4 separate regions of the Homo sapiens genome follow, and all the other regions are reported to be linked to region 3. Evidence: microRNA targets listed by miRTarBase, many of them from high-throughput screens and not tested one by one. Region 3 holds a microRNA gene; each other region holds the end of a gene's coding sequence.

What was found. Region 3 holds the annotated microRNA hsa-miR-449a (UGGCAGUGUAUUGUUAGCUGGU, at 2,128-2,149, opposite strand). A microRNA usually pairs through its seed, bases 2 to 8, with sites in the 3' UTR of a target mRNA and lowers its output. Matches are read on the target gene's strand: a 7mer-m8 pairs with bases 2 to 8, a 7mer-A1 pairs with bases 2 to 7 and ends in A, and an 8mer does both.
Region 1: miRTarBase lists TSN as a target of hsa-miR-449a. Seed matches in the 3' UTR shown: 8mer at 1,805-1,812 and 8mer at 2,886-2,893.
Region 2: miRTarBase lists TXNIP as a target of hsa-miR-449a. Seed matches in the 3' UTR shown: 7mer-A1 at 4,777-4,783.
Region 4: miRTarBase lists CTIF as a target of hsa-miR-449a. Seed matches in the 3' UTR shown: 7mer-m8 at 1,670-1,676, 7mer-m8 at 2,352-2,358 and 7mer-m8 at 3,315-3,321.

Annotation. Positions count from the first base shown.
Region 1 is chr2:121,764,119-121,771,225 of GRCh38, forward strand. TSN (translin) reads left to right here. Exons shown (of 6, transcript NM_004622.3): 6 at 1,016-3,735. The coding sequence ends at 1,249. Among named protein-coding and RNA genes, the nearest start is that of TSN, 12 kb to the left of the region's middle.
Region 2 is chr1:145,988,008-145,995,113 of GRCh38, forward strand. TXNIP (thioredoxin interacting protein) reads right to left here. Exons shown (of 8, transcript NM_006472.6): 4 at 6,922-7,024; 5 at 6,537-6,793; 6 at 6,274-6,430; 7 at 6,009-6,160; 8 at 4,428-5,879. The coding sequence ends at 5,844. Among named protein-coding and RNA genes, the nearest start is that of TXNIP, 5.0 kb to the right of the region's middle. RefSeq lists enhancers at 4,701-4,780, 6,602-6,651.
Region 3 is chr5:55,168,459-55,175,576 of GRCh38, forward strand. MIR449A (microRNA 449a) reads right to left here and starts at 2,164; the gene lies at 2,074-2,164. It overlaps CDC20B (cell division cycle 20B), which reads right to left and starts at 4,719. Exons shown (of 12, transcript NM_001170402.1): 1 at 4,480-4,719; 2 at 4,130-4,192. The coding sequence starts at 4,542. It overlaps MIR449B (microRNA 449b), which reads right to left and starts at 2,284; the gene lies at 2,188-2,284. It overlaps MIR449C (microRNA 449c), which reads right to left and starts at 3,895; the gene lies at 3,804-3,895. RefSeq lists silencers at 4,443-4,737, 4,825-5,154.
Region 4 is chr18:48,859,049-48,866,168 of GRCh38, forward strand. CTIF (cap binding complex dependent translation initiation factor) reads left to right here. Exons shown (of 12, transcript NM_014772.3): 12 at 296-4,169. The coding sequence ends at 511. Among named protein-coding and RNA genes, the nearest start is that of CTIF-AS1, 21 kb to the left of the region's middle. RefSeq lists an enhancer at 3,320-3,871.

The sequences.
Region 1 (7,107 bases), not on the chromosome of region 3:
TTGCCTGCAGGGAGGCAGAAATGGAGTCTATTGGAGTGGGTATGTGTGCATTGAAAACCTGAGGAAGATGGTGAGAATGGATGATGGGGTCCACTTGTAGGCTGTACCACTTGTCTGGCTTGTTGGAGACACCTGACCAGTAAACAGGAAGCATCTTGTTAGTATTAGTTAAGTGTAAGGTGTCTTTAGGACCATACATGTTGGGGCCGGGCACAGTCGCTTACGCTTGTAATGCTGGCAGTTTTGGAGACCAAGGTGGGAGGATCCCTTGAGGCCAGGAGTTCCACACCAGCCTAAGCAACAAAGCAAGACCCCTTCTCTATATTAAAAACAAACAAACAAACAAAAAACCCGTATGTTGACAGTGCACTAAAGGGGTAAGCCTGGAAAAGTGGAGAGGATTTTACAGAAAGGGGAATCTTTTTTATTATTTTAATATATTTTTTAAAGCCAGTCAAATGGAGCAGTAGGGGGTTGTATACTGACACCGAGAAGGGGAGTCTTGGGTTGGGTCTTGAAATCAATGTTAGTTCTCCTTCAAGACAGGGTTACACTAACATAATTTTAGATTCTTATCCCAAGTCTGCCTTACTTGATTCTAGGTGACTGGAGTTGCAGCTTAGTAGGTGGGCTCTAGAAATGTGATCATTTGGCCAAGGTTGGAAGAGGTAGTGGAGCTGCTGTGATTATTTTGTCGTTTCTTTCTTCGATATGATAGCAGATGAGCTGTAAAGATGCTTGTGTAATGTAACACTTTATTATGCAATAGCCAGTTTAAGAAATTAGAGAAATTTTAGATGTTAGTAATGTTAAATTTTACTTGGCAGAACTGGTCTCATTTTCAGTGGGATTCTTTTCAGAGAAGCTCCTGTCTTGTCTGTACTTGTGTGTACCCTGAGATAGAAGATCAGCGTGGCTGTCTAGGCTTGCGGTTCTTCTGGTTGTGATTCAGAGGAAGATGCGCTGAGAAGGAGCCATGTTGTAACAAGCCCCTGTTTTCTCTTTCCTGGTACAGTCGAGGCTGTCTGTCAACAGCGTGACTGCTGGAGACTACTCCCGACCCCTCCACATCTCCACCTTCATCAATGAGCTGGATTCCGGTTTTCGCCTTCTCAACCTGAAAAATGACTCCCTGAGGAAGCGCTACGACGGATTGAAATATGACGTGAAGAAAGTAGAGGAAGTGGTCTATGATCTCTCCATCCGGGGCTTTAATAAGGAGACGGCAGCAGCTTGTGTTGAAAAATAGGAGGCTCTCCTTGCTCCTGGCCTTGCTGACCTCAGCGGTTGCCAGGAAGGGGTGAGCACAGAGTGCCTCTTACGGTAGTTAGGATGCTCAGTTGCTAAACACTGCGCTTTATTTTCTTAACCAGTTGTGGTGTGAGTATCAGAATTGAAACACTTTTTTGGGGGTAAAAAATATAGCCTTTACATGGACAGAATTTTTTTTGTTGTTTCAGTGAATATGCCTGTAATTCAGTGTATTTCAGTTCCGTCAGAAAGTGTAAATGTTAGTTTCTTGGTAAAGTCCTTTTCTTGCTTACCTTGACTGTTGATGTACTGATTGAGAAGTTCATTGTCTCGTTTGTGATTCTTCCAGATGTGATGCTTGATATTTTCTATATGCGAGTTAGCCATCCACACCCAGGCATAGCCTGGATACAGTATAAAAATAGATAATTAAAAAGATGGTTGCCAAGCAAGGAAAACTTATTTTATATTTTCCCTTCCTTATTTTAAGCATTGTGAGTAAATCAGATGTTGAATTCTTTTGCCAAGGGAATTATAGCTGCAGGTTCTCTCTCACTGCCATCAAACTGTAAAAGATTAAACTGCGAAGTCAAGCTCAACAGATTATTTTGGAAAGTTTTTGTATTAAGGGATTTAGTAACATCATTTTGTTTTCCACCAGGCAGGGAGTAGGGCTTAGTGTTTTAAAACACCTCTGCTTTCTGATGTTGCCTTAATATTCTGCTATTGCAGCAATTAAAAATTGTCTTCATGTACATTTGGAACTAACACGTGATGTGATATATTCCTAAACTATGAAACCTTTTTCCTAGTAGTCAGCTAGATCATTTGTTCTGGGAGTATAAAGCCACCCACGTAAGTTAATAAGCAAAATCCTGACTATTATGTTGTTAGAGAAAAATGCTTTGCTTTGTCTGGAAGAAAGATAAAATAGTGAATTATAAATAAGTCAGGCCGGGCGTGGTGGCTCACACCTGTAATCCCAGCACACTGGGAGGCCGAGGCAGGGGGACTGCTTGAGCTCAGGAGTTCGAGACCAGCCTGGGCAACAAAGTGAGACTCCATCTCTATATAAAAACAAAAACCACGAAAGCACACACAAAATAAATCAGTGGGATTTGGTAATGTGTTTTAGAGTAAGAAATTTCAGGTTGTTGGTGACTATCCCAACAGTCATGTTTTAAATGTACAGTTTGGGGCAAGTCATGTAAATACTGTTGGTGGTCTTCCCCACACGCCCCAATTTTCAGGTAGTACTAAGAGTATGTGCCAGGAAACTCTTGCTATTGAATTGAGATGATTAAAATGGTGACTTAATCCGTAGTTATTTTGCACCCACTGAAAGGAAAGTGCTTTCCAGAATAATATGAAGTATCTAAAAGTGTCACCTTTTCTTGCCTGATCAACAATTTGGGCTTCCTGTTTGTACAAGGGGCCATTTGGCATACCTTTCACAGCTTTTATCAGGCCAAGTTAAAGGCTGACTACATTTTTTCATCATGAGGAAAGCAGTTGAAATGAGGCATGAGTTACTGTGCATTGGGATTTTAGAACAATTTTCTTGTGACAGCTCTTTTTGTGAAGTTAGGTTCTTAAAAGTGCCCATGATGGTCACTTAAAATGTGCAGTAATAGCACTGCCAGGATCAAGCATGAAAGGCTTTTAAATTAGATCATCCCACAGACAATACGTTTGATAATAGTTTTTTCTTTTAACCTCTTTAAGTATTGATTCTGCTTGAGAATATTGAAGTACTTGCCAGAAGTTGTGGATTTCAGTTTTAACAAATGCTATTAAAGTGGAGAAGCACACTCTGGTCTTGGAATTCCATTTGAGGATTTAGAAGTGTCATGTTTATAACTATTCAGTTGTGTTTGTTGCTGGCTTGTTGTAAAGCAATAAAATTTTTTTGGTCTTTTTGTAAGTGAGTGTGCTGCTGTAAGAAATCTCCCATGTGCATAACAAATTCTGAATATTTTTTGAGGCTAAAGAAGACCGGGGTGACAAGCAGATACTGCTGTGTAATGGTTACACTAACCAAAAGACACCAGCCACTCAGAGTTCTATACTGTAAAGCGCAGATAACATTTGTGTGTTATACCTTGATTGGGGAATTAAAAGTCATTTAACTGAAGATGTTGAGAAACCTGGGCTCTGGTTTTAGTATACCGGAATTACTTTTTTCCAATTTTAGAAAATCAAGCAGGTTAGAGAAAATAGAGATGAATTAGGGGACACTGTCTTATGGATTCATTTATAAGAAGAGAACCAGCCATATACACTTGGGGAGATTTGCCACATCTTAAACTTGAATAATAGTATGAGTAATGCTTAAGGGAGTTTAATAGAGAAGGAAAGCTTTGGCAGTGTTTTGAGAACTTAAGTGGCTAAAGAGATGAGACAAACATGCAGGTCGCTACTGGCATAGTTTCATAATTGTGTACTCGGAAATTAAAGTTTGCTTGTTTCTTGGTCTGGATTAAACTGTTTGTCCTCCTTTTCAGATAGAGCATCACAGTCAGGGCTGACACCAAAATAAGACTTTCCCTGAGCCTGAAATAATTTTTTTTTTTTTTTAAGTATCTACTGTAATAAGCATCAAACAAGCAGAAATAAACAATGTCCCTTCCCCTGGACAACAACAACAGCAATAACAAACATTTAAAGGCGGTAAAATTGCCAGGACTGGTGGGTTGGTTGAGTGGGCTGGGTGCGGGTAGTAGGACGAGATGGGACGGGACGGGGAGGAATCTAGCATCGCTGCCAGGTTTCTGGCTCAGGTTTGGTGCCATTCACTGAGGTGAGGAGTGTAGGAAGATCGCATGTCTGGAGGGGGCTGGGCAGCTGATGCATTTGCTTTTGGATGTGTTGGATTTATGACACTGGAGCGGCAGGTGGATAAATCAAAAGTGGGTAAGATCTCCCTGGAGAACGTGTAGAATGAGAAGAGTCACAAGCTGGGGACAAATTCTTGGTTAACAGCATGGCTTAACAAGGTAGGCAGAGGAAATGGAGTCCATGAGGAAGTGGAGAAATGGTCAGAGAGGCTAACAGAATGGGAAGAGTGGCTTGTTTCAGAAGCCAGGGAATAAAGGGTCTTAAGTTTTGGGGTGAGGGATTTAAAATAATCTACAGCCTGGGAGCTCCATGACTAATCTGTCAGGTTACGCTAGGTTATCCTGTGGGAACACCACCAGAGCTCATAGGCAAAGAACAAGGTTTCTCACTCACATTCCCTCTCCATTGCAGCTTAGCTGGGGATCTGTTCCACGTTGTCTTTATGTAGGGTGACAGAGCAGCCACTAACTGGACCATTGCTAGTTTTAGTGGGAGAGGGAGGGAGCTGTGGAGTGTCTTGCACAAATACATGATCTGGTCACTCTGACAATTATTGTTTTTTTTTTTTTTTTTTTTTTTGGAGATAGTCTGGCTCTGTCACCAGGGCTGGAGTGCATTAGTGCAATCTGGGCTCACTGCAACCTTCACCTCCTGGGCTCAAGCGATCCTCCCTCTTCAGCCTGCCTAGTATCAATAGCTGGGACTACAGGTGCAGGCTACCATGCCTGGCTAATATTTAAAATTTTTTATAGAGACAGGGTTTCACTATGTTGCCCAGGCTGGTCTCAAACTCCTGGGCTCAAGTGATCGTCCCACTTTGGCCCCCCAGTGTGTTGGGATTACAGGTGTGAGCCACTACACCCGGCTTCAATTCATTGTTTAAAGGTAGACACGTGGCCCTGCTAAACCACAAGGGGGTCGGAAGTGAAATCCTATCTTGTAGGATGAGAGTCAGGAATGGATAGACAAAATACTGAAGTTTGGGGGTATGTTTAGTTCAATTTGTTAAATATATAGTTGTAATACTTCCATATACACATGAACACCAATTGGCTTGGGAGGGAGAGAAGGTGCCCCAGGACCACTCTCCTGTTTGACAGAGTTCTCTGGTATGTGTGCATTTGTGTTGGATTTGTGTTACATTTTAAGCCAACATTCAGCGAGCTCTATGTGTTCCATGGGCTGGGCTAAACATTTTGTTTAATTATCTCATTTTGTCCTTATATAAGACAACTATGTGAGGTAGCTACTACTATTTTCCCTATTTTAGACTTGGCTTAGAGAGGGCAATTAACTTGCTGTGAGTTCATAGTTATGAAATGAAAGCGCTGCTGTTCAGAACCCAGTTATTTTGCCTCGACATTGCAACAGACCATTTCTTCCTGGATGCTCTTGCATGGCATCCCTTCATAGCCTGACAAGACAAACATCAAATCCGCAAATAGTTAAGAGCACAAAGTGTGTGTTTAACTTTGGGCTAAGTGTGGTTTGTCATAAAAATAAGCATGAAAATAAATAGACTTGGTCCTCACCCTCAAGATGTTTAGTTCTAGTTGCAGGGGAGGAGGTGGTGAGAAAAGAGATTAAACAGGTAAGAGGTTAAATATTCAACTAATATTTGAGTGCCTACTATGATCTATTTTTAACAGCTTTATTGAAATACATTCACATGTAAAATTGACCCATATCAAGTGTATGATTCAGTGATTTAATTTACCATGTGGTGGAAGCATCACCATAAATCAGTTTTAGAACTTTTTTTTAATCTCCCCAAAATATCCCTGCTCCTACTGCCAGCCCTAGGCGACACTAATCTAATTTTCATCTCTATAAATTTGCCTTTTCTGGATATTTCATAGAAATAGACTCCTACAGTATATGATCTCTTATGTCTTTTCGCTTAGCATAATGTTTTAAAGGTTCATAACATACGTTAGTTTGTTCCTTTTTATTGCTAAGTAGTATTCCATTGTTTGGATATTCCACATTTTTTTTTTTTTTGAGACGCAGTCTTGCTTTGTCACCCAGGCTGGAGTGCAGTGGCGTGATCTCTGCTCTCTGCAATCTCTGCCTCCCGGGTTCAAGTGATTCTCCTGCATCAACCTCCCGAATGGCTGGGATTGCAGGTGTGTGCCACCACGCCCAGCTAATTTTTGTGTTTTTAGTAGAGACAGGGTTTTGCCATCTTGGCCAGGCGGGTTTTGCCATGTTGGCCAGGCTGGTCTTGAACTCCTGACCTCAGGTGATCCGCCTGCCTCGGCCTCCCAAAGTGCTGAGATTACAGGCATGAGTCTGGCCAGATATTCCACATTTTATCTATACATTCATCACATGATGACACATTTAAGTTCCATTTTTTTGGCTACTATGAATAATGCTGCTCTGAACATTAGCATGCAAGTCTGTGTGAACGTAAGTTTCTATTTCTTTTGGATAGGTACCTAGGAATCTGTGGTAAAAATGGTAAGTTTATGTTTAGTTTTTAAAGAAACTGCCAATCTGTTTCCAAAGTGGCTGCACTATTTTAAATTCCCACCAGCAATATATGAGGGTTCCCTACTAGGAGTTTAAATTCAAGACAATAACAGAAAAGATGTCATAGTCACAGTACTTAGTTTCTAAATAACTTTTGAATAATTGCTATAGTTTGGGAGCTGTAGCTTGAACTAGGTCATGAAAAGAAGTGAGTTTTTTTTTTCTTTCTATATATATATATATTTTTATTATACTTTAAGTTCTAGGGTACATGTGCACAACGTGCAGGTTTGTTACATATGTATACATGTGCCATGTTGGTGTGCTGCACCCATTAACTCGTCATTTACATTAGGTATATCTCCTAATGCTATCCCTCCCCCCTCCCCCACCTTTTTTTTTCTTTTTGAGACAGTCTTACTCTGTTGCCCAGGCTGGAGTGCAGTGGCAAAATCTTGGCTCACTGCAACCTCCACCTCCTGGGTTCAAGCAATTCTCCTGCCTCAGCCTCCTGAGTAGCTGGGACTACAGGTGTGCGTCGCC
Region 2 (7,106 bases), not on the chromosome of region 3:
TGAGTTCAAGGTCAGAGTTTGCTATGATTGTGCCTGTGAATAGCCACTCCACTCCAACCTGGGCAACATAGTGAGACCCTCTCTCAAAAAGAGAAAAAAGAATTGTGCAAAGGTCACTCCTTGACTCCACTTCATGCCCTTCAGCTCTTGTGTGATTGTTTTTTGCTGAACATGTGCTTTGTCAGATCCTCCCCTCCACATTTTTCCTTCCCAGTGCCTCAACCCAAGTTAGATCCTTGTGTTTCCAGTCTGTTCAGAGGTATCAATCAAGGCAGCCAATGACTCTGGTTGTTGAAGTACCTGTTTTTTGTTTTGTTTTGTTTTGAGAAGGAGTCTCTCTCTGTCTCCCAGGCTGGAGTACAGTGGCGTGATCTTGGCTCACTGCAATGTCTGCCTCCCAGGTTCAAGTGATTCTCCTGCCTCAGCCTCCCAAGTAGCTGGGACTACAGGTGCCTGCCACGCCTGGCTAATTTTTTATATTTTTAGTAGAGGCGGGGTTTCACCATGTTGGCCAGGCTGGTCTCAAACTCCTGACCTCAAATGATCCACCCACCTTGGCCTCCCAAAATGCTGAGATTACAGGCATGAGCCACAGCACCCGGCCCCTTTTTCTTGTTAATTTTATTTTCTTGCCCTTTTCTCTCTTTAGGTAGTTTTCTTTTTTAGTTCTCTCAGATCTCCCTATACCAGATTAAACCTACTGAATAAATGATACTCAGAACCACATCTCCTCTAATCATTGTACATGTAGGTCATAGCTACTTAAAAATTAAAAGGCACGTGAGAAGAGGATAGGCAAAGAAGACCCAGAATATTCCCCCACTTAAGTGGGGAAATAGCTAAGCCACTCCCCAAGGAAGTGTACTGAAGCAAGCCTGTACGCGGAAAATGTCCTCGGGTGAGGTAGAAGTTGTATACACAAGGCAAAAAGAAGTAGAGTGGAGTTTTTGTGCTGTAAGAGAAGGATAGGTTTCCTCTGGGGGAACAGCTCTAGCTGCTTACTCCCTTAGATTTTGATGTGGTATTCAATATGGCAGTCACTAGTCACTAGTCACTAGTCACATATGTGACAGTCACTAGTCACAGAAAGCTAAAGTTTAATTGAATTGAACAAAATTGGGCCGGGCACAGTAATCCCAGCACTTTGGGAGGCTGAGATGGGCAGATCACCTGAGGTCGGGAGTTCAAGACCAGCCTGACCAACATGGAGAAACCCCATCTCTACTAAAAATACAAAATTAGCCAGGTGTGGTAACGCATGCCTGTAATCCCAGCTACTTGGGAGGCTGAGGCAGGAGAATCGCTGAACCCAGGAGGTGGAGGTTGCAGTGAGCCGAGATCACGCCATTGCACTCCAGCCTGGGCAACAAGAGAGAAACTCCATCTCAAAAAATAATAATAATAATAAATAAATAATTAAACAAAATTAAAAATTCAGTTACAGGCTGGGCACAGTGGCTCACACCTGTAATCCTAGCACTTTGGGAGGCTGAGGTGGGAGGATCGCTTGAGCCCAGGAGTTTTGAGACCAGCCTGGGCAACATGGCAAAACTTCATCTCTATGAAAAATACAAAAATTAGTCGGGCTTGGTGCCATGCACCTGTAGTTCCAGCTACTAGGGGGCTGAGATGGGAAATCACTTGACCCTGAGAGGTGGAGGCTGCAGTGAGCAGAGATCATGCCACTGCACTCCAGCCTGGGAGACAGAGCAAGACCCTGTTTAAAAAAAAAAAAAAAATGTGTGCACAGCACTTTGGGAGGCTGAAGTGGGCAGATTGCTTGAGCCTAGGAGTTCAAGACCAGCCTGGGCAACATGGTGAAACCCTGTCTCTACAAAAAATAGAAAAAATTAGCTGGGCATGGTGGCATGTGCCTGTAGTTCTAGCTACTTGGGAGGCTGAGGTGGGAGAATCACCTGAGCTTGGGAGGTCAAAACTGCAGTGAGCCAAGATTGTGCCACTGCACTCCAGCCTGGGAGACAGAATGAGACCCTATCTAAAAAAAAAAAAAAAAAGATAAGAAAAAAAATCAGTTTATCAGTCATAGTAGCCACATTTCAGGGCTAGTGGCTACTGTATTGAAAATTTCCATCATCATAGAAAGTTCTATTTGGACAGCTGGATAAAGGATATTAAGGGTATCCGGAGGAGATGCCCATGTTCTGGCCCTTCCAGGATCAGATCTCTTTTTTTTTTTGGAGACAGTCTTGCTCTGTCGCCCAGGCTGGAGTGCAGTGGTGCAGTCTGGGCTCACTGCAACCTCCACCTCCTGGGTTCAAGTGATTCTCCTTCCTCAGCCTCCCGAGTAGCTGCAATTACAGGCGTAAGCCACCGCGCCTGGCCCTAGGATCAGATCTCTAAGAGGCCTTGGGTATAAAGTTATCTATCCTTTCGAAGCCATCCCTCTTCTCATATTGGGTACTGGTAGCCCAACTGTGCACACAACCAGGCTCATGTACTCCATGGTCTCTCCATTCCTTTGTCCTGCTCTCTGGCCTGCTCTTATCATTGCTTCACCCCTCTAGGCCCTGGAAAACAAGCTACAGAAAAAACTTTTCCATCAACTTTGACCTAATTTCCTGGTCACAGATTTGAAGGAGAGGAGCCACTAAATTCTTGCACAGGTGAGAAAGGGGCGGAGAGTTCAGGTGAAAGTCACCCTGGCAATAGGGAGAAATAGAGACTGACACTTTGGTAATGAAAGAGAGACAAAGAGAGGGAGGAGAGTGCTATGGAAAATGAAAGATAAACGAAAAATGAGGATTGAAATGGAAAAGGATCTTTTAAATCTCACTTTCTGTTAAATTCACATTGATTTTAGTTTGCTTATTATTTATTTATTTTTGAGACAAAATCTGTCCCCCAGGCTGGAGTGCAAGTGGTGCAATCATAGCTCACTGTAACCTAGAACTTCTGGGCTTGAATGATCCTCTTGCCTCAGCCTTGTGAGTAGCTAGAGCTACAACACCCCACACTGATTTCATGTAGAATTTCCAGGAGCCTGTTATTTGGAATTAGTTTGTGGAAGTCCTCAGAAAAATCAATTCCCAAATAAGGACCAGGACCAGATCTGTGCAAATATTTAAATTGGCCATCCCAGGGTTTCTCCACCTGTCGGTTCTTTAGGAATGAAAATCACTGCTGGGCGCCATGGCTCACACCTGTAATCCCAGCACTTTAGGAGGCTGAGGCGGGTGAATCACGGGAAGTCAGGAGTTCGAGACCAGCCTGGCCAACATGGTGAAACCCCGTCTCTACTAAAAATACAAAAATTAGCTGAGTGTGGTGGCTCATGCCTGTAATCCCAACTACTCAAGAGTCTGAGGTAGCAGAATCGCTTGAACCTGGGAGGCGGACATTGTATTAAGCCAAGATTGGGCCACTGCACTCTAGCCTGGGAGACAGAGCAAGACTCTATCTCAAAAAAAAGAAAGAAAGAAAGAAAGAAAGAAAATCACACCAATTAAACATGGGATTGTGGTATTACTCTACTACTATTACCCTACAAGGAATAGGAACCATCAAATCATCTAAGGGATGAGGGTGAAGTTGAATAGTTAGCAAACATTTACTGAGTTATGTGCTTGGTTAGGAACTGTGAAAATAAAAAATGGTTAGCTGCCTCCAAAGAATTTAATACTCATAACTCTATAACCTCTTAAGTCCTGAAGTTATCCTTGTTAGTATATAAATCAAGTTTACATTGGGAAGAAACCCTATGATAAAACCATATTGTAAAAAGGGGATCTTCAGCTGAGTGTGGTGTCTCACGCCTGTATTCCCAACTCTTTGGGAGGCCAGGGCCAGCAGATCACTTGAGCCCAGAAGTTTGAGGCCAACCTGGACAACATGGCAAAACCCGAACTCTACAAATAATCAAAAAATTAGCTGAGCGTAGAAAAAACAAACACATACACACACACACACGCACACACAATTAACTGAACGTAGTTGTGTATGCCTGTAGCCCAGCTATGTGGGAGGCGGAGATGGGAAGATCACTTGAGCCCAGGAAATCAAGGCTGCAGTGAGCTAAGATCATACTACACTCCAGCCTGGGTGAGTGAGACTGTCTCAAAAAAAGGAACCGCCACTCTTTTCTTTCAAATGCCCTCATAAACATCATCTCCCTGTATTTCAAGAACCCATGAACTCCAAAACTGAAGGAATTTAGTAATGATTACCTATGGATTTGGAAAACTAGTTTAGACAACCGGAAAATCCCAGTATAGTTGTTCAGTGAATCTGAAACATGCCTCAAACGGTTTCCCTCTTCACCTTCTAGCCCCCACTCTGCCGACATTCCTTAGGGTCCATAGGGAGTGTTTTCTCCACAAGGTTTTCATTAGTGTGGATTGTTAAGTAGAGGAAAACTCCTTTAGACACACCTTCTTTCCAAAAACTTTTCCAAAGCCATCTCACAGACATTTTTTTTTCCATTAAAAAAACTTTATTTTCATTTTTTACAAAGAATATCCCCATCTGGGGTAAAAATATATCTGGTTAAGTACAAAATATAGTCTTTACCATACAAAAAGATACATAATACAAAAACATGAAACCAACCATCTTCAGCCCACACTTTCTGGCTGTAATAACTCTCAGAAAAGGGTGGAGCTCAGTGCTCTGACACAGGACAGTGAACAAAGTGCTATGGCTGAGAGTGACTGACCAAGTGCTGGCAGCTGCAGTGAGGGGCCAATATCCCTATCTCCTAACACAGGGCAGGAAGGGGGTTCAAAGGGCTTTTATGAAGACCTGCCCTCTAGTTTCTCATGGCAGTATTTGGAGGTTCTGATCACAGGGTTGGGCATCTTGATCAAGAGTTCCTCCTTGGGTTTGAAGTCACAGTGGGCAAGGCTGACAGCAGCAACCCTTTCACATGATTTAAGCGTTAGAATTATATAATTCTGTACATTGGGGCAATCTCAAAAGTAGTAAAATTTTTTTTGTCTTTTGGCTTAACCCTAGAGACACAGTAGACCAGTTTCAGCTTACATTTAAGATGGCAGAAGGGGAGAACAAAAAATTTGACAGGAATTAAAGTGCTAAGAACATCACCTTAGAATCAATTCCAAGGACTTACATGAAGAGAAAACCATCCTCCCATATGAAAATATTTGCAGTAGGAGAACACAGTGCAATAGGCTCCAAAAATGGCTTTTAAGACCTTTGGTGGGGCAGTTACTACTGCTTTAAAAGCCAGGTTAAAGTATACTCTAAGCAAAGATGACCGTAGAGCAGCTAGCTTCCTTTTTTATAATCACAGGGAAAGCTCTCTCCATTGTCCATCAAATCAGCTCTAGAAGGTTTTTCTTTTTTTTCTACAAGTGCACAAAGGGGAAACACTGATTTTAAGAACCTCCTTTTCCCAAAGTTTTGGCCACAATTTCCCTTTTCATCTTCCTAGTTTGTTAAATTGGCTCTTCTCCACATGATACGTAAGTTCAAGGTCCAAAGTTCCTATCACAATTTACAAAAAGCCTCCAAAAAACCTTGAAAAGCTTACGCCAGGAGGCCATTTTTACCTGACCCGAAACTATCGAAAAGGCCTCAATTTTCAAGGAGATCTGAGAAAATGGATGGGCCTGAGTTTTTCTAGTTATTTTTAAACCCATCCAACAAACACCCCTGTATCACAACATGGGCGCTGGCTGAGGATGAGTCCGCATCCTTTAAGGCCCAGGAGATTGCCTGCTGACCACCTCCTACATTAGGAAGTCAGAGGCTAAGGTGGACCCACACTCCATTGCAGAGACTGTTGAGTCTCTGAAAAAGTGAGTGTCCAGGAAGAGAGACAAAAAGAAACAAGTAGGTAAAGCTGCTTCTTTTCTTCCACATGCTCACTGCACATTGTTGTTGAGGATGCAGGGATCCACCTAAAGAAAGAAACAGACTATTTCAGTTCAGGTAAGAACAAAAAGAACAAACCAGTTTAGCAATCCGTCTAAGTCAACTTCTTATAGAAAGCTTAGGACAAATTTAACAGTAAAGATGACAATCCTCACCTCAGTATAAGTCGGTGGTGGCATGAACTTGAACTCAGGGGCATACATAAAGATAGGGCTGTCTTGAGAGCCATCCATGTCATCTAGCAGAGGAGTGGTTGGGCTCTCCAATCGGTGATCTTCAGGAATGACATCCATATAGCAGGGAGGAGCTAGAAAAGAAAATATGGCCACATAAGAATCCTGCCCAAGAAATGCTGGACCATCACAATTTTACAAACCCAGGTAGACCAGAAACAAAGAAAAGACATTAGGTCTGGCTCACCTTCTGGGGTATCAGGGATGTTCAGATCTACCCAACTCATCTCAGAGCTGGTTCGGCTGGCCATGCTGGATGTTCTGCTGCTTAGACCTGATCTGCTGCCAATTACCAGGGGCAGGTCAAGGATGACCTTCTTGGATCCAGGAACGCTAACATAGATCTAGAAAGGAAGATGGCAGTTTATTACACCAGAGGTCTGGAGAAACAAGACAGCTGTGGTAACAGATGAACAATTTCTCTGCTGAAGCCACCCTGCATCTACCCACCAGTAAGGAATATTCAACTCGAAGGATGTTGCAGCCCAGGATAGAAGGCCTGATCTTCTGAACCCGAAGGCTCTTGCCACGCCATGATGCGCATGTCCCTGAGATAATATGATTGCCTCTGACTGATGACAACTTCTGAGTCAGCACCTTGGTCTGGCCATTGGCAAGGTAAGTGTGGCGGGCCACAATGGCAGCTTTGGGGACCACAATTCGGGAACATGTATTCTCAAAGTCAGCATGGATGGAAATCTCATCACCTAGCAATGAGAAAGATGAAAACTTACTGATACTCAGTATAGTTAATGACACTTCCTCTACCCCAGTCCCATGCCCTTGCCCCTAAACCCAGTTCCTGTTTTAACTGCCATAAGCACTAGGATTTTACCTTCACAGAATCCTTTTCTGTCAATTCGAGCAGAGACAGACACCCGCCCATCAGGAATGAACATGCAGGAAACTTTCTTTTCTTTTTTAGCAGACACAGGTGCCTATATAGAAGGGGATAAAAAGGTGTTTTGAGATGCTTCAATCTAATGCCCAAGACGTCTGATTTATCATCCTCATGACCCA
Region 3 (7,118 bases):
TCCCACCTATGGAAACATTTTCTCTTTTAATTTGTATCTTCACTTTCCTCCTAACCCATTCATCTCTTTAACATATTTTTTATTTCTTTAACATATTTTTATTTCATTCCATTCCTTCCCTCTTTTCTCATCATCTCGATAATATGAGACTAAACCACAACTTTAAATGTCTTCTGTTTATTGAATATAAAGTTGGTTTCCCTACAGAATCAAAAGTTCTAAAAAAGAAAACTTAAAAAAATTTAAGTTGGCATTTTCAGAAACAGAAAATCAATTACGGCATGTTCCTCACTTCTAAGTGGGAGCTAAACAATGGGTACACATGGACATGAAGATGGAAACAGTAGACACTGGGGACTCCAGAAGGGGTAGAAGGAAGGAATACAAGGACTGAAAAACTATCTATTGGGTACAATGTTCACTATTTGGGTGATAGGTTCACTAGAAGCCCAAACCCCAGCATCGCCTATTATATTTATGTAACAAACCTGCACATGTACCCCCTGGATCTAAAATAAAATAAAGTTGGCATTTTATATCTTGCTCTTTAATTTAAAAAAACTAACACACAAAAGCCAAAGCTTCTAAATTTAGTAGGTTTTATTTTTATCACTAGGTCAGTGATTCTTTATAGAAAATAACATGTTGAAATTTAACCTTAAAAAAAGACAAGATGAAAATAATATTTACATGGAAGATATACTTAAACATAAATCTCCTGAAAGTGAATAACACTGGGCAACATCAAAAAGAGGATGTGATTTGAAAGTAGTAAAATGCGTAAGAATCAAATTATAGATATCTATTTAACCCATGTTCTAGAAATATGTTTAAATAAGGAAAGCATAAAAATTATTTTACCAATAACTTATAATCCAGTACAGTAGAGAATGCGAAATATTTCTTATATCTCATCTATGGCTTAACTAACTGATGGCACCACCAAAGTCAGTTCCACTGACTGGCTGCAAATGTCCGCACAAGAATACTGCATGTCTGGAAGCCAGCACATATCTATGCTACTTCGTGGGTCAAAATGCCTCCAAGGTAATGAGAATATATTTAAGGTCATATTGTATGGTCAGTTCTTCCCACTTCACAAGTTGTTAGATCTCATGCTGTCTTCCAAATATTTCATGAACCTGTGATTTTACAGAAAATGAAGTGAAAGGATTGAGGTAGATCTTCCAAAAAAATGTAAACCATCCCCCACCCAAAAAAAATCCCCAATATTCTTGATATTTCAAGTGAAAAATGTTTTAGTTGACTGACTCATCTGGAAAATTACCTCAACTTTCCCTTCAGTTGGTACACACACAGTCATGGCTATAGAAACCAATTCTAATGCTGTATTTAGAAACTAATGATGCAGAGGCCGGGCGCAGTGGCTCACGCCTGTAATCCCAGCACTTTGGGAGGCCGAGGCGGGTGGATCACGAGGTCAGGAGATCGAGACCATCCCAGCTAACACGGTGAAACCCCGTCTCTACTAAAAATACAAAAAAATTAGCCGGGCATGGTAGCAGGCGCCTGTAGTCCCAGCTACTCCAGAGGCTGAGGCAGGAGAATGGCGTGAACCCGGGAGGCGGAGCTTGCAGTGAGCCGAGATCGCGCCACTGTACTCCAGCCTGGGCGACAAAGCGAGACTCCGTCTCAAAAAAAAAAAAGAAAGAAACTAATAATGCAGAAAGAATCCTAAAGACTTCACTGAAAATCTGGGGACACATTGTAGGTCCATTCCACATTGTTATTACATTCTAAACCTTATAGTTAAAAACATGTAATTTCATAAATACTTAAACACTGTCTACTCCGAAAGACTCCAAAGACTCCAAAAATATTTCTTAAAAATTTTTAGTTATGGAAAAGCAGGCATAAGTAAATTTTTCTTAAAAGGAAAAAATTTAAGTAATTGTAATACTTTCCTTACCATTATAAAACTGTGCATTGTAAGTATTACTGTATTATAAGCTAATGGCAATAATATATTATGGTAAATAGTGGCTTGCTTCATAGCAGAAAGTACACATAAACACACACTAATTACAGATTCAGTTACACTCTGATGTTCATTGTATATGCAATAAGACAGCAGTTGCATGTTAGCCGATGCCATTCACATATTCAACCAGCTAACAATACACTGCCAGCTCATCACACACAGGTATCCAGAGCACTTCATTGACAAGAAGAATTTATCCAGAAGCAAGTGGCAGGGTAGTTGTGGCTGCTGACTTGACCCAAGCAGCCAGCTAACAATACACTGCCTACCTGATTCAGGTCACTGCCGATTCTCGTGGCCCAGGCAGTCACTGAGGCTAAATTTGTAACATGAAACATAGTGGCAGAACTCTAATCTTAATAGTCACATTAAAGAAAACTTATACACAAAATGTATTACTTCAAGACTATAAGAAATAAAATCAATATTTGCTTGAATCTAGTCAAAAACATAAAAGTTAAACAAAAACTTTAAAACTTTCAGAATACTTACATTTAGGTTTTCCAAATTAAATGCTTGGATAAAAATATGTTCTACAGTACAAATGAATTTTAAAAGTTACTTAACTGTAGGCTGGGCGCAGTGGCTTATGCCTGTAATGCCAGCACTTTGGGAGGCCAAGGTTGGCTGATCCCCTAAGGTCACAAGTTCAAGACCAGCCTGGCCAACATGGTGAAACCCCGTCTCTATTAAAAATACAAAAATTAGCCCAGCGTGGTGGTGCTGCCTGTAATCCCAGCTACTCAGGAGGCTGAGACATGAGAATCACTTGAACCCGGGAGCTGGAGTTTGCAGTGAGCCGAGATTGCACCACTGCACTCCAACCTGGGCAACAAAGTGAGACTCTGTCTCAAAAAAATAAATAAAAAGTTACTTAACTATAGCTTTTCAAATCACTTCTGTTTACTGATCCAAAGACTACTTGTCTGTATTAGACAGTAAAATATCTAGGAGTCGTGATAATACATAAGCTGTGCACGACACAAAACTGCAGCAGTGTTTGGGGGAAAAAATCAACATTAAAGTATTTAAGAAATGTAAGGGCTTAAATGCAATTAGTTTTCTCCTACTAGAAATGACATTAGTAATCGAGTTCTGAAAATGCAATTATGTATTCAATATAGGATGTTACCACTTGAATACTGAATTTTTTTTTTTAAGAGGCAGGGTCTGGCTCTGTCCTCCAGGCTGGAGTGCAGTTGTGCAATCATAGCTCACTGCAGCCTTGAACGCCTGGGCTCAAGCAATCCTCCTGCCTCAGGCTCCCAAGTAGCTGGGACTACAGGCACATGTCATCATGCCCAGCTAATTTTTGCAGTTTTTTTATAAAGACAAGGTCTCCCTGTGTTGTCCAGGCTGGTCTTGAAGTCTTGGCCTCAAGTGATCCTCCTGCCTCAGCATCCCAAAGTGCCGGGATTACAGGCATGAGCCACAGTGCCTAGTTGCAAAATTTATATAAGATCTAGAAAAATCTATTAAAATGGTGGTGGATTTGGAACTAGAATCTCTGCGTACAGGTCAAAGGAAGATGAACTATTGAGCCTAGAGAGAAGCATGGTAAATGGTGACAGAGATTTAAAGCAGATGAAGGCTCTTTATGAAACACGTTTATAAAACCATTTAAATTTGTTTCCTTTTACACTGATTACAGGAGACACTAAAGACCTTTGGGTTTGGTCTTTCAAGGAGAACAGGTACTACATTGGATCAACTTTAAATTGCTCACGTTAAGAACCATGGTTTATGCCACTTCTCCACATTGTCCACAAGATGGCACCATTTCCATTTCTTTGGGGGGCGTGCTTCTGAATGCAACAGAGAGGAGTGCAACTAGCAACTGTTAAAATCATTAACAGCCGCTAGCAATACACTGCCTACCTGACACATCCCAGCTTTATCCTTTGCTGTGGAGGCAGAAACTAGAAAGTACGATTCAGATGCAAACGATTGCATTATTTGTCTGGGATCTTCAGTTTCATAAAGAAATTTTTTTTAGTATGTAATAAGATACTAAAATTCTCATATTTTCAGACCAGCTCAAACTTCCTACAAATACATTATTTACCAAGAATTCGTTTGTTCAAGATCAGAATTAAAACAGAGAACAAGAACAAGCCCTGGACTCACGTTGGCGGAATCTTGACTTCTCTTCTGCTTCAAGTCTTTGGAGAGCACACGCATGATACTTTCCTTTGAAAACACAGATAACATATTGAGGGAGAAACTATTTAGGAAAATCATAATTTCAGGTGTGGAATTTTTCTAGATCTTGTGCTTGTCAGATTACACTTTTTTTTTTTTTTTTTTTTTTTTTTGGCAACTAGGCACCTTCAGAATATAACTAAATTACATCACTCAAATTTACGACCAGGGCTTAGAGTTTCGTACCACCTCTTGGTCCTAAACAGATATTATGAACGGGGCCTTCGGCCCCGCATTAGAGAGTTAGGGAGAATGCAGAAAAGGGTGTTACTCACCCACAGCATCTCCTCTTCCGTGCGGACCCTCCGAGGCGCGGTGCGCTCCAGTTTCCACTCCATCTCCGGCTGACTTCGCCCTGCCTGGCGTTTGGCCTCTCTGCTCGACTGCCTCTGGTTTTCTTCCCAGGTCTAAGTCAGTCTTGACGCCTAATCGTCAAACCCCTGGAGTCCCGTCCCCCAGGACCATTCTATTTCACCACCTCCCTCCAGGTCCCCCACTCCTCCCACCGCCGCTGCAAGGTGTTCCCCAGGGTACCATTTAAAAAGCCGGCGGGGCGGCAGTCGGCGCGGGAATCCCCCTCGCCGGCTTCTTATTGGCCGGCGCCGCGGTGTCGTCAGAGCCCGGGTGGGATTCCCCGGCGCGCGCCGCGGCCCCGCCCCTGCCGGCCCTCTCTGGGCCCCGCCCCGCCACCGCCTCCGGCCGAGGCGCGCACCCGGGCGCCAAGCTTTGCCGCGAGCCGTGGCGGGCCTGCGGCTGGGCCTGGCGCCGGGGGCTGCCACCGCGGCAGGAGGCGGAGGGGTTGGCGGGCGAAGAAGCGGGTTCTGGGAGTTCACGATCTTTCCATTTTCAGAAACAAGAATGTTTCCTTATAACGGCCCTGATCCCTGTTCCTCTGCACCCACTTCTCTTTCTCCAACCACACCCTGCCTTTGCAGGATCCGAGCGTGCACAGCTCTCCGGCCTCTGTCCGTTGGTAATCGCTGTGTCAGCTATAGATGTGAGGCGTGTTCGTCAGCTCTTCGTTTTCAGAAGGCAAGAAAACGTGGCAAGATTTCTATGCCGATCAAAAGGGAGAGCGTTGACATATTTATGCAATAAATTATTCCCTGCTCTATACATTGGGAGTAGTCAGGTCCTCTCACTCGGGCTTCTGAGCCCTGTTCCTTAGCAGGGGGTAGGTGAGAGAGGTGAAGAGGTAGTGAAAGAACCAGTGACAGGCAGGACCTCATAAGGCGTGAAGAGGGGGCCAGAAAGCTGAGCACACTGGGGACTCCGTGATAAAGGGGGAGAGGAAGATATTGAGGGTTGAGGAAGAGGTCTGGCGGGAAATGACAGGGAACCAGATGGGCTGTGCAGCCTTAGCTGCCCATCTGAGCTGCCAAGAGAGCCGAGTTGTGCCATATGGCAGGAGGGGACACTGCATCTGGGAAGCCTCTGACAGCCTGGCAGCCTGTTTGTCCCTCCCTTGCTAACCCCCCAACCATTTTTGACATTGGATTGTATTTTGCTCTAAGGCAATGTGAGTTTGTGTGTTTTTCTGGGGAAACAGTTCATAGATAGCAGATACTCAAAAGGGTCAGTGATCCAAAAAAAAAAAAAAAAAAAAACCTAAAACTCACTCCCCTGCTTTCCTTCATACTGAAAGCAAGAAAAAATGGCATTAGAACTAAGACCCAATCTTAGACCAGTTTTCTATGTACAATAATAATGCTGCATAGGGTAACTTAATCTTCAAATGACATATATCAAAATGTTTGATAGTCAAATAACTAGTGGATTAAAAGATCTCTAAGTTTCACCCACAAGAAGTCTATTTTCCTTGCAGTGGAGTACTCATTCCAAATTCCAGTAAATCTTTCAGCAAACATTAAGACTAAATAAAAGTAAACTATTATTGGATGAGAGTCAGATGCATTGTTAATTTAAATGATCAGTTTTGCAAATGCCAACTAAAACTCAAAGTATATTGGAAATAATATGAAGGACATATTATCTTTGTTCTATTTTTAAATATAGTTTACATTTAACCATTTTGTATAAACACAGAATAAAAGCAATTCAACTAATAAGCTCATAAATCCATGTAAATTGGGATTTTTAGAATCCAATTTCTTACAAGTACTAAGAATAGTGAATCATTCATTTAGAATGCAATTATCTGTAAAAATACATTTATAAATTCCATTATAGCCATTAATTCCACAGCATACATATACACAGCCTCCAAATGTCTTTTTTTCCCCTAGTGTGAAGTAGAGAAAGTATTAGTCAAATATCTTTAGGAAGTAATTATGCAGTTGAATATTCAGATTAAAACTTAACTTCAGAATGATGGAAACAGAAACTCGCCACTTGGCAAATATTACAGTAATAACTGTCAAGAATACTAAAATTACCTTGCATATGATGAGAATACTTCCCCCTATAATTAAACACAAAAAATAAAATCACAACTTTTCACTGGCCAAAACTGGCAGAGACCACCTTAACCAAGTGATCAAAGTTAACATCACCATTAGTGAGACATGTTGACATACTGTGCCTCATGAGAAGGACACATCACTTCTGTGATATTTTTGCCCCACAAAATGCATAACCTTAATAGTGAGAAAATACTAGACAAACCCAAATTAAAAGACTTTCCACAAAATTGGCCAGTACTTTTCAAAAGTATCATAGTCATCAATAAAGAAAGAGTAAGAAACTGTCACAGATTAAAAGAAACAAGACATGCCAACCAAATGCATTGCGAGGTCCTGGATTGAATCCTGGACCACAAAAAAGAAGATATTGGTTAGATAACTGTAGAAATTTGAATTGATCCATATCTGCAGATTAGTTAATAGAGTAGTAGTAATGCTGATTTCCTAGTTATGATTATTGTACTATAGCTATATAAAATGTTAAGATTTGT
Region 4 (7,120 bases), not on the chromosome of region 3:
TGGGTAAAAGGGACAAGAGGCATGTTCCTGGTGACAGCTCTTTCAGCCCTGGGCAGTAGGCAATATTCGGATCCCTCTGGATCCTGCTGGCAGATTGGTTGGTAAATGTGAGCTCTCACTCTTGGCTACTCCACCTTCCACTCTCCCTGTCCTCATTCCAGCTGTGGCACAGGGGTCTGGGCCTGTGTGTCCTTAAGACAACCCAGCTATTTCCTATCCCTGCCCACCTAATCAGGGTGGCCAGTGGGCCACTGTGGGACCCGAGGCCATCCTAACCCCACATCTCTGTCTGCAGCTGCAGAGTACAGGCCGGCTGCTGGAGGAACAGCTGCCTGAGATGATGACAGAGCTCCTGGCCAGCGCACGGGACAAGATGCTGTGCCCCTCGGAGTCCATGCTGACCCGGTCGCTGCTCCTAGAGGTCATCGAGCTCCACGCTAACAGCTGGAACCCTCTGACGCCCCCCATCACGCAGTACTACAACAGAACCATCCAGAAACTGACAGCCTGACAGCCAGGGGGCCTGGCAGGCGGCCCACGGGCAGCTGGGGCCCTGGTGCACAGGGCCAGATGGACAGGCGGGAGGACAGGGGTGGCCCTGGCGGGAGAAAGAAATGGGGAGGAGGGCAGGCAGAGTCGGTGGCCAGTCTGGAGCCAGACGGGGAAGGGAGCAAATCCCTGAGAGGAGTGCCCCCGCACAAGCCCCCCAGCCCGAGCATGCAAGCTCACACCAATAAGGGAAGCATGTTTCTTTTTCCTGGTGGCCCTGGCCCTCCCCTTCCTCACTCCCGCCTCTCCCCTCCCCATCAGACCCATCCCCCACGGAGCTTTGTGTGAGGGATCTCATCGCTGTGACTCCTCGGAGACCTTGGCAGCCTCGCACGCCGGGGCACCGCTTGGGTCAGAAAGGACCTCGGAAGGCTGAAAAAGTGGGTCGGAGACGGGCTCGCATTGTTCCCGCATGCTGTCAGCCGCAGTCGCCAACTGGCAGCAGGCGACGTGTAGCAGATGTCCGGGAGGACAAAGGCAGGCACGGTCCCCACCAGCCGCCCGTAATTGACGGCCTTTGTCAGCCATGGCAGAGCTGACGCTCCACCTCCCACCTCCAAGTCCTCCTCACTGCAGCCCCCACAGCCTCAGGCCTAGGGGGTCAGGCGCAGCGGGGGAGATGGAGTTTGCAGTTCCACTTGCACTCTTTTGTTTATTGTGTTTTATTTTTCAAAAGTCGGTTGCTTTGAAGTCTCTTTGGCCAATGAAAATGCCCGTGATGTGATCACACAGTCAGCACTGTTGAGGACCCCCGGATTAGTGGGAGATCAAACCCAGCTCCCCTCTAGAAGAAGGATTCGAGCCACAGACAGCTTGCCAGTAGCCAATTAGGGTAATTGGAAACTTCTGCCCCGGCGGGGGGTCCCCGCTGGAATCCTGTGTTCCTCGCCACTGGCTTCCAGCGCCTCTGTTTTCTCAAAGGGCTGATACTGTCACCACTGGGACCAAGTTAAACCTGGTCCTGGCCCCAGGGGCCTTGTGGCAAACAGGGCACAGAACGAGACTGGCAAATTAAAACCAAAATTCTAGATGGTGTCTTGCGCTCCACACGCAGGTCTTACTGGGGAAAAGGATGGGAGTGGGGGCTCCCCAGGACTCGATTTTAGCTAATGCGCTGTGTCACTGCCCCAGCTCGGACGTAGAAGCCCAGCCCTCCGTGAGCTCTTGGGAAAGGGGTGAATTCACTGGGTCATGGAAGGGACAGTCAGGTGACCAGCGGGGTCGCCAGATGAAGCTTCCCAGCCGGGAAACAAGACGGGGTTTCTTGGCAGGCCCTGGTCCTGGGGAGCAGGCCCTGTTGTTGGCTGGAGAGGAAGGTGTGGGGTGGAACAGGTGTCCACATAGCTCCATCTCTGGGGGCTGGAGCACACACTTTGATGAGCCCCCCCGGAAATGATGTCAGAGCCTAGCCGCTTCCTTATTTGCTCTTTTATTGAGGCCGGGCAGGCCCTGGGTCACTTTGGAGGCCCCTCTTGGTCCACACTGGACTGGCCGGGAGGTGATGGGCGGGGAAGGTTCTCGTGATTGATTGATTCTGAGTCTGAGAGTGGCGAGTGGGGAGAGGCTTCCCCAGTTCTCTCCAGCTTTCCCTGCAGCTGCAACCTGCCCTCTGGTCCCAGGTGTGGAGCCTTTGCCTGTCTCTAAAAAGAGCCTGTTGGCGACAAGGTGTAGGGGGCACAAGTTTACCTGAAACAGGTCAGTGGTCTCTCCCAAGAAGCGCACGCCACCTCTGGTCCCTGGCCCTGAACCCTGCCTTCTTCCTCCCTCCACGGTTTCTTCCCAGACTTTCTCAAGCTCCTCCTCACTGCCCTTCCTCCCCAGCCCAGCCTGGGAACACAGATGCCCCGCGGGTAGGAGGCCTCGAGGGAGGAGCCGGGCTGATGCGGGGCTGCTCAGGGCAGGCCCCAGGGCGAGCTTGCCATCGTGGCCAGGCAGCCTCCACCTGTGCTTCAGTGGCCCCTGCCCCCCTGAAGCATGTGGGGTTTGTCCGCTAGGAGGAGGCAAGGCCCCCGAAGAGAGGAGAGACCTGGGAGTGGGAGCTCAGGTCAGGGAGGAGGCAGGGGAGTGGGGTCTCCCAGACCCAACGGTGAGCTCAGAGCAAGCTTCACGCAGGACGCTCCGAAACACTGTGTGGAGGGGGCTGTGTTGTGGGCACCTTGGGGCCTGATTCTCCTTCCTCCGAACGGGCTCCTTGATGGCCTGGCCACAGGGGCAGCTCCCCATTGGCTGTTAGGACCAGAGTGTGAAGAAGAAGTGAAATATAAATATGTATACATATATAAATATATTTTTAATTACATGTCGTGTCACGGTGGCTCCAGACATACTGTTTGCCTAGTTTATTCCACTGCTTGAAAGCGCTTCCTAGCCAATCTGAACAACAACACTTTAAGCTGTTTTTCTAAATGCAGGTTGCTGCTCCTTTTTCAGATATGGAAGGAAAACGTTAAGACTATTTTTTTTTTAAAGAAACAACAGTCAAGCCTAAAATTTGAGACCCCGAGGCAGCTTCCCGAGGGAGACTGCTCAGACAGGAACTGCAGGACAGAAGTGGATGCCCCACAGACCCTGGCCCCCTCCCCAAGTCCATCCCCTCTCTGTGGCATGAGGAAGGCCGCGTCCGAGTTGACCTCTGAATGTATGTGATGAGAGGCAGAGCTGGATATTGCATTTCTAAGGCTTGCATTGCTTTCCCCTCGCCCGCGGTTCTTGGCGCATGGAAGAGGCGGTCCAGCCATCTGATGTTGATCCTGTCTCAGTCTCCCCACTGCCTGTCAGGATGAGTTAGTCATTGTTTTTCTCCGAGGCGGCCTGCTTGCCACAGCCCTGCTCCCCAAGGCCTGGTGGCTTTGCCGAAGCTCTGGGACCGCAGCCCCAGCGAGGCCCCCAACCTCACCCAGACGAGGCCAGGAGCCCCGCCACCCTCCACGGGATGTGCACCCTCAGACCCCATTCTCTCTGTTCGTCCTTCCTTGACCAGTCTGTAAACCTTCACTGTTTGGGGATCGTCCTGTCCATCCATGTAAATGTAAATGTTGGCCGAGTCGGTATTTATTCTGATTGATTTTTATTTTATTCTATTATTTTCTCCGAGGGATGAGGGTGGGGGGTGTGGGAAGGGTACCACAGATCAGGCCGGGGCAGCTGTAGGGGCGGGGGCCCAGACAGCCAGGCCGCCACCAGAGCAGCCCCATGGGGTGCCCCAGACGCGGGCCTCCAAGAAGCCAAGTCCCAGTCTGTTTTCTGGCATCAGACACCGGCCCGTGTTCCTTGTCAGACAGACAGACTCTCAGGCCTGCCTGGGGAGTCGTGTCCCTCAGCTGCAGGGCACTGTGTTGGGAAACCATTGGCTGGGCCTTTGAGGACACAGATCAGAAGAAAGAAAGACAACTTTCCTCTGCGCGGAACACTCACACGGAAGGGCTGGCCGCCTCCCTGAGCCGGCTGGGAGTGGACGACAGGACCTACCTCCCCAGAGCAAGGGCCTGGGGCTTCCCGCCAAAGCTGCCGCGGAACCCCGCTAGTGCGACCACCCTCCCTCCGTCGGTATGTCCTGCTTTCCAGCTGAACCCAAACTACAAGTGGGTTTAAAAAAATAAACACCACCACCAAAAACAAAATGCCCAGAGTCTGTGCTCTTTGTGTGTTCAGCAAAAGAAACCTTTTCCCCAAGCTCATGTGCCTCAGCTATACTAGCAGGGCCTCCAGGAGCTGGCCCAGGAGATGAGCTGAGGGGAAGATTCTTGCAAGAAGTTGGTCCAGGAGACCATGGGTGAAGGAGACTTACTTACATCCCCCAAAACTGGGAACTAACTATGACCTATCCAAAGTGACCTGGACCTGTCCAGGATCAAGCCAGTCCTGGACAAAATGGCTTTTGCACTAAAGGTTTGGTTTAACCAACCCCCCCCAAACCTACCCCTTCCCTGGAAATGTCACTGTGGCATTTGGCAATGAGTCATTTCAAGAGGGCTGAGATTTGGGCCCAGTGGCTTTCAAAAGTCAACAGCGAGTGGCTGTCCAGTCCCAGTTGGTCAAATGAGTCTTTCATCAACGAGTCCCCAAAGGGCCCAGTGATTTCTTTTCCTGTGATGACATGTCTCTTGTTTTGCACAATCTTGTCTATGGCAAGGCACTGGGGACACTGTTTCCTGGTAACGCTCCCCTTTCCTTGGGGATTCTTTCTGGCTAGAACTTGCTGGTCCTTCAGCTCCTTGCAGGGGTCGCACCAGAGCACCAACTCCCTTCCTCCTTCCCTGGCCTGGCTACAATGGCGGCCAGGGCCTCCCAGGAGCCGGGTGAAGGCATGTTGAGATTCGGGCCTTGCCCTTCACTGAGTCACACACCCACCATGACACTGACAGGGACAGCCAGAAGTCCACAGACTGGGTAGAGAGAGAGAACATTTTAATTAAACAACTGAGGTATGTGGCGGGCCAATTTTTTTTTTTTTTTTTTTTTTTTTTTTTTTGAGATGATGATGGACTCTCGCTCTGTCACTCAGCCTGGAGTGCAATGGCACGATCTCAGCTCATTGCAACCTCTGCTTCCCAGGTTCAAGCAATTTTCCTGCCTCAGCCTCCCAAGTAGCTGGGATTACAGGCACACACCACCACGCCTGGCTAATTTTTTTTGTATTTTAGTAGAGGTGGGGTTTCACCATGTTGCCCAGGCCGGTCTTGAACTCCTGAGCTCAGGCAATCTGCCTGCCTTGGCCTCCGAAAGTGCTGGGATTACAGGCATGAACCACCGCTTCCAGTCCTAATTTTTGTATTTTTAGTAGAGACAAGTTTTCGCCATGTTGGCCAGGCTAGTCTCAAACTCCTGACCTCAAGTGATCCACCCACCTCGGCCTCCCAGGGTGTTGGGATTACAGGCGTGAGCCACCGTGCCAGGCCCAAATTTATTTTTATAAAAATGCAAAGCAGTAGAAGCAGACATTGGAGGTCAAGATCAAAGGTAGGGCGACGATGAGGAACAGAGAGCCTTATCACACCCTGCAAAAGAGAAAGGAGATTTTCCTGGATGGGCTAGTCCTGCTTCCAGAAGGCCCTAAGTTACTGAATACTACGAGACACAGCATCGAAATAATACATGTTTCAATCCTGATTTCACCACCATCTTTCTGCTTGTAGGCATTCTCTTGTCATTTTAGAGTGTTTGTTTACATTTGTACTGGGATGCTCACAGCGTAACTTATAAGGGCCTTTTAAGGACCAAGGCAAAGATGATGATAGCAGAAAAATAAAGGGTTGAGCAGTTGAAATGGGAAAGAAGTGGTCCTGCCTTACTGATCTCCCTCATTCCTGCAGTTCCGCAGCGGCTTCCTTACACGGTCTCAGCTGGTCCCGTGAAGTAGGCAGGTGAGTGTTTTCGATTCCCATTTTATAGATGCGCCAAAGGCTGATCACCAGAAGAGCCAAGGCGAGGGTGAGCCCAGAAAGTGAGTGGGTCCTTCAGACTCCTCATCCCTGCAGCGCCCCAGGGAGCCAGCCAGTCACACCAGCCAGACAAAAGGAGCAGCCAGCTGCCCCCGGGACTCGGCAGGCTGCGGGCAGGCCACGTGGGCTTCCCGCTTCATTGGTGGAAACTAGGACCATGATGAAATACCTCAGATCAGGAGATTTCAGTGGAGTGGGCAGAAGGAGCGATGGTGCAGAATTTGGTGCCGTTCTATAAAAGGACCCATTATCATATGTGCAGTGTGTGTTGCTGGATCCCAGTTTCCCCCAGGCCAGTGAGGGGGACCCTGATAGGGGGACATATCAAGCATCAGGGTCAATACCCGAATTGCCTGGGAACATTTTCAAACTACATACTAAAACAGCACACACATACACACCAATATTTTCAGAATTTGGGCCTTGGGGAGCCCCTCTTCTTACTGGTACATGTGTGCTATGCCTTGGATGGGTGCAAGAGAAAAGATGGTTGAGAGCCGCCATCCATCACTCCTGGAACACAGTACGATGATGGCCATGGAGAGCTGTCATAAGTAGTGCAGAATTATTGTCTGGGGACAGCAGGCCATGCTGCTGTGCTCTTTTGCAATCTCAGGGTCTGCCATCTTGGCTGAAACAACACTGGCTGGCACATCTGCAACATGGGGCAGGGGCTCTGGCAAGTTGCTTGAATGTGGAACAGAATCCATACCATGGACTCGGGCTGCATTCTCACTCCTATGGGCCTTAGGTACTTTTGCCTTCATAGGCCCCTTCTTCCATTTAAAAAAAAAATGGAAATATTATGACTACATTGGTAATAGAGACAAATATATTATTTTTATTAAAACATTTTCTCCCACCTAGAAGTTCATTTTTTTACCCCTGATTTTAAAAAAATTAAAACACTTTGTGGGCCCCTAAAAAACATTTTGTGGGCTCCTGTCTTAGTCCATTCAGGCATCTGTAACAAAGTACCATAGACTTGGTGGCTTATGAACAACAGACATTTATTTCTTAAAATACTAGAAGTTGGATGTCCCAAATCAGGGTGCCAGCATAGTCATGGTCTGGTGAGGGCCTACTTCCCAGTGGCTAATTTATTGGATCTTCATGGCAGAAAGAGAGTA